Regions from separate parts of the Homo sapiens genome. Here region 2 is linked to region 1. A link means that fine-mapping ties the variant in region 1 to the expression of a gene that starts in the linked region. Tissue or cell type: whole blood. Region 1 holds a variant in brackets; the other region holds the start of a gene. All regions are shown on one strand. Distances are between the middles of the regions.

Region 1 (2,669 bases):
ACAGGGTGCTGCTCACGCTCTGTGGCCCTGAGGCCAAGGTCGCATGTTTCCCACGACCCAGAGGGTGGCAGCCTTTCTCACCCCCACTGGCTGGTCCAGGGCCTCCCCTAGGACAGTGGGCTCCAGGAAGCAAATAAAGGGCTGCATCTGGGTCTGAAGGAGGCGATGGGTGTTCTGCCCTCCTGTTTTCCACCAAACCACAACAGTTACCTGGCTGTCACCCTCGTTCATTTTGCCACTCAAGTGTCCGGCAATGCTGAATACAGCCAGTGTGCTCCTCCCATCAGGCTTTGGCCTTCCTGCCCTCACCCTGCCCCACCAAGGGACTGGTGGCTTCCCTTCTGCCCTGGCTGCCAGTCCTCAGAAAACCAAGGCCCCCTCCATATCCAGGGGCCACTCTTCACCAGGGAGCCAAATGTAGCTGTCACCATCCCTCCAGACGCCTTTAGAGGGAGCCAGGCTCCACTTCTGCCCATGTCCAACTTAAAAACTACTAGGAGCCACGTGGGAACCATGCTGCCAGACACCAGAAACTTAAACAGTCCAGCTCAGGCAACTGTTTGGTCATGCCAACCCCTCCCCTCCCCATACCCTGAGTCACAGGTCTTGGTCACAGTGTCTGGGACCGACCTCAGATTTTATACAAAAAGCTGGGGACATAGTCAAACCTGAGCATGGGGTGGCTGGTCCCTGGAGATTCCTGCATGTAGTGCAGCTTCAGCAGCTCAGCCAGGTACTGGACCACCCTAACATCCTCATTCACCAGACCCAGGGTCAGCTTTAGGAAGCTCATCTGGCGGCTGGCTACCAGCTCCTCTGTCTCCTTGTCGTGGGTAGGCAGGTGCAGGTGGTGGCAGAAGGTGTAGAGGAAGGCCTTGGAGCAGAGCTGGGTGAGCATGCTCTGGACATGCAGGTAGTAGGTGCTGCCCCGCTTGATCTGTGTGCGGTGGTCTGCCAGGCGGGGCACCAGGGTGCCTCTGTAAAGGGGGCAGCGCAGGGTTTTGTTGTCAAGGTCCAGGATGCTCGTGTAGCGGCTGTAGCGGCTCAGGGCATGGAGGGTACCGGCACCGGCAGGGGAGGCCACTCTGAAACAGACAGGCCAAGGTCAGGAGGAAGGGCAAGGGCCGGGAAAGTGGAGGCAGAAGCTTGGGAGGTGAGGCCTCCTGTCCCCAGGCCAGCATCCACCTAGCCAGCATGCACTGGCTCTTCCTGGAAGACAAATCTGATCATTGTAATCTTCAAAGGGCTCCTCACCACTCTTATGACCAAGGTCAAAAACACGCTGGGTGGCCCACAAAGCCCTTTGTGGTCCGATTCCTGCTGAATGGACTCTTTTTTGGAGCCATGGCAAGCTTTCAGTGGGGCCTTAGAATTACAAACCTCTTTGTTCAGGCCAGGTGCAATGGCTCACACCTGTAATCCCAGCACTTTGGGAGGCCGAGGCAGGCGCATCGTGAGGTCAGGAGATCGAGACCATCCTGGCTAACACGGTGAAACCCTGTCTCTACTAAAAATACAAAAAATTAGCCGGGTGTGGTGGCAGGTG[C/T]CTGTAGTCCCAGCTACTTGGGCGGCTGAGGCAGGAGAATGCTGTGAACCCAGGAGGCAGAGCTTGCAGTGAGCCAAAATCGTGCCACTGCACTCTAGCCTGGGCAACAGAGCGAGACTCTGTCTTAAAAAACAAAACAAACAAAAAAACCTCTTCTTTCTGCCTGAAATAACCTCTCTCTCTTGTACTTAGCTTAATTTAAAGCATATTCAGCCTTCCCTGATCCTCTCCTGCTTTCCTGCTGTGACCTTGGCCAAATTCATTAACCTCTCTGAGCCTCACCTATAAGATGGAGATAACATTCCTACTGTTTTTATTTATTTAGAGACAGGGTCTTGCTCTGTTGCGCAGGCTGGAGTGCAGTAGCACGATCATGACTCACTGCAGCCTTCATCTCCTGGGCTCAAGGAATCCTCCCACCTTGGCCTCCCAAGTATTTGGTACTATAGGCGTATGCCACCACACCCAGATAATTTTTTGTAGAGATGGAAGTTTGCTATGTTTCCCAGGCTGGTCTTGAACTGCTGAGCTCAAGTGATCCTCCTGCCTTGGCCTCCCAAAGATTTGGGATTACAGGCATGAGCCACTGTACAGGCCAGTTACTACTATTACATCCCTCATGGGGTCGCTGTGGAGACAAAATGAGTTGTGCTTAGGACAATGCTGGCCCTCGGTAGGCGCTGCTGTCATCGCCATCACTACTTTTAGCCTAGCACTGACCAGTGGGGTGACTGCTGTTTGTTCATTGGCTTCTCCCCACTGGACAAGCAGCTCCAAGATTCTAGGGTCCCAGAACTGCACCTGATCTGGTCTCATGCCCCCAATGCCTGGCACATCAGAGCCAGGAAAAGCCAGTGTTCACTCAGTGAGGGGAGCGGTTCCTTAAACACCCTCCTGAAGCAGCTTCCCCAGAGCAGCAGGGACTGCCCTGTAGGGCCCAGACATTTAGGGTTTACGTCAGACAGGTATGGTGTAAGAAGGACTGACGGTGACTTGGGACCAAGGTACTCTCACAGTACTTTTTCCTTCCTGGGTTTTATCTTCTTGTATATTTAACAATCATTTACAGAGCATCTATAACATCCCAACATTGACCTGGGAGCTAACACTGTAATGAAGAATG
Region 2 (2,681 bases), 41 kb before region 1:
GGCTGAAGCAGGAGAATGACGTGAACCCGGGAGGTGGAGCTTGCAGTGAGCCGAGATCGCGCCACTGCACTCCAGCCTGGGCGACAGAGCAAGACTCTGTCTCAAAAAAAAAAAAAAGTTTTTTTTGTATTTTTTGTTTGTTTGTTTTTCGAGATGATGAGGGTCTCACTCTGTTGCCCAGGCTGGAGTACAGAGGCAAGATCATTGCTTACTGCAACCTCTGCCTCCCAGGCTCAAGTGATCCTCCCATTCAGCCCCCCAAGTAGCTGGGACTACAGGCGACTGCCACCACACCCAGCTAATTTTAAAATTATTTGTAGAGACAAGGTTTCACCATTTTGCCCAGGCTGGTCTTGAACTCCTAGGCTCAAGCCATCTGCCTCGGCCTCCCAAAGTGCTGGAATTACAGGGGTGAGCCACTGCGCCCGGTTTTTATCATTCTTATAATAATTATTGTTATCATTTGACAAATAAAAAAATTTATGACGCAGCCTCAGGTGGTCCTGACATGTGGCCCCGGTTTTTATCATTCTTAACAATAGGTAATGTTCATTGAGTCCTTATTGTGTGTCAGTATTTTATTTATCTTATTTTATTCTTCTTGAGACGTTGTCTCGCTCCGTCCCCCAGGCTGGAGTGCAGTGGCGCGATCTCGACTCACTGCAACCTCCGCCTCCTGGGAGGCAACATAGTTAGACCCCCATCTCTACTTCAACCTGGGGGACAGAGTGAGACCCTGTCTCAAAAAAATAAAAATAAAAAATAACAAAAATAATAATAATAAAGTGTCTGCTCTTGGATTATACACCTACAGAGTAATAATGTTGCAGTTTGGACGCACATTTGTCCTACTTTAAATGACCACCCTGCAAACTAAAAGTAGTACCATGAACAAAATTCACTCATAATCCCACGGCCCAAGCGACAGGCTTAAGTGAGGAAGGCCCTGTGTAGTCTTCCTGGAAATCTTGGTCCACACACCAGCCCTGCAGCCAAAGCGGGTCAGTTCTGCAGGTCCCTGCCCCAGGTGCGCAGCTGCACTACGCGGCCTCCGGCCCGCCCCGGAGAAACAGGCCCTGCCCGCCGCTGCGCCGCAGCCAATAGCGCGGGTGCGTTTGGTGGCGGCCCATGCTTGGCTGCGCTCTCTGATTGGGCGCCTCCGGGGGCGGGGCCAAGCCCAAGCCTGGCGCGCAGAGTGCACCTTCCTGAGCTCGAGCGGTCCAGCGCCAAGTTCGGGGTTTGGGGTTGGAGCGGCTGGTCACGTGGCTGGCCCGCGGCGGTGCGCGGGGCGTTGGGTCAGCGGGTCTGGGACTGGTGGCACCGGCGGCGGCGTAGGACGGAGGCGTCGCTAGGTACGTGCGCGGGCCGTGTTCCGGTAGGTGGGCGGCTTCGGGTCCGAGGGCCGCGGCGTCCCAGAGCCCGGGGGGTGCTTCGGCGTCCTCGCTGTCCCCCGCCGTACCCCACCCTCTGCAGCCGCAATGACGGGAGGGGAGCGCTTGGGTCGCGCCTGGGCTGGGGATCGGGCGGCGGCCAGCCGCAGCGCCCCAGTTCCAGGCACATTCGGTATGATGGGGTGGCGGCCCGTGGCCTTTGGCAAGAATGCGAAGGCTTATCGGGGATGTGAGTAGTAGCTCTCCACTGAACACTTTTCTCGTTGAGCATTTTCGATTTAAACAATCCTAGCTCCTTCACAACAAAGCTGCAAGTCAAGTGCTACTGTTTCCCCCATTTTACAGGTGAGGAAGGTGGTGGGGCCCTGAGAAAGGAGGCAACTTAAATGGCAGAGCCCGGAATAGAACCCGGGTTCTCAAAGCCTGCGCCCCTAAAGGCTGCGCGCAGGGTCGCTCCACTTTTGGCCCGTGCCACCAGATCCCTGTGGGGAATGAGCTCTTCCTGTTGCCCGCAATCTGCCACCCCCTGTTCTAGGAGACAAATGTTGCACTGTGAAGTTCTTGGCCCGGTGCCTTGGCTTCGAGATTCCGGGAGTTAAGTGACCCTTGGTCCAGCTGAGGTCAGCACAGATGCGGGCCTTCAATCGGGCAGTTACCCAGAGAATAGACTGGAAACACCAGTTTAGGTTCTTGCAGAAATAACATTGTAGGCCGGGCGCGGTGGCTCATGCCTGTAATCCCAGCATTTTGGGAGGCCGAGGTGGGCGGATCACTTGAGGTTAGTAGTTGGAGACCAGCCTGGCCAACATGGTGAAACCCCGTCTGTACTAAAAATACAAAAAAACCTGGCTGCCCATGGTGGCACACACCTATAATCCCAGCTACTCGGAAGGCTGAGGCAGGAGAATCGCTTGAACCCGGGAGGTGGAGGTTGCAGTGAGCGGAGATCACGCCACTGCACTCCAGCCTGAGTGACAGAGTGAGACTCTATCTCAAAAGAAAGAAAGAGAGAGAAAGAAAAGAAAAAAAAGAAAAGAAATAACGTAAATTTATTACTTGGGGGAACTTGGAACGGAAGTGGGTAATTGTGTTTTTATTTAGTGCAATGTCCTGGGACAAGGCCTTGGAACTGAAGAGAAACCATTGTTCAGATTCTGGCTCTTATATGGCTTTAGACAAGTTAGCTCCCTGGGCCTCAATTTCCTCTTCTGTAAAGAAGAGAACACAAAATGTGTGTGAGATAGAAGATGTGCAACAAGTTAGTTCCCTGAGCAGATCCTTGGCTGGATC

Evidence for each region. PIP is the estimated chance that this variant, and not a neighbour inherited with it, causes the effect.
Region 2: it holds the start of SHMT1, and the variant in region 1 is fine-mapped to the expression of SHMT1 in whole blood (TOPMed, PIP above 0.99).

The regions. Positions count from the first base shown.
Region 1 is chr17:18,321,033-18,323,701 of GRCh38, reverse strand. It overlaps SMCR8 (SMCR8-C9orf72 complex subunit), which reads right to left. Exons shown (of 2, transcript NM_144775.3): 2 at 1-1,085. The coding sequence ends at 632. Among named protein-coding and RNA genes, the nearest start is that of SMCR8, 7.1 kb to the right of the region's middle. RefSeq lists enhancers at 508-1,007, 1,008-1,509 and a silencer at 2,021-2,213. The variant C/T (reference allele first, on the strand shown) is at 1,547.
Region 2 is chr17:18,362,043-18,364,723 of GRCh38, reverse strand. It overlaps SHMT1 (serine hydroxymethyltransferase 1), which reads left to right and starts at 1,174. Exons shown (of 12, transcript NM_004169.5): 1 at 1,174-1,352. RefSeq lists a silencer at 1,080-1,549.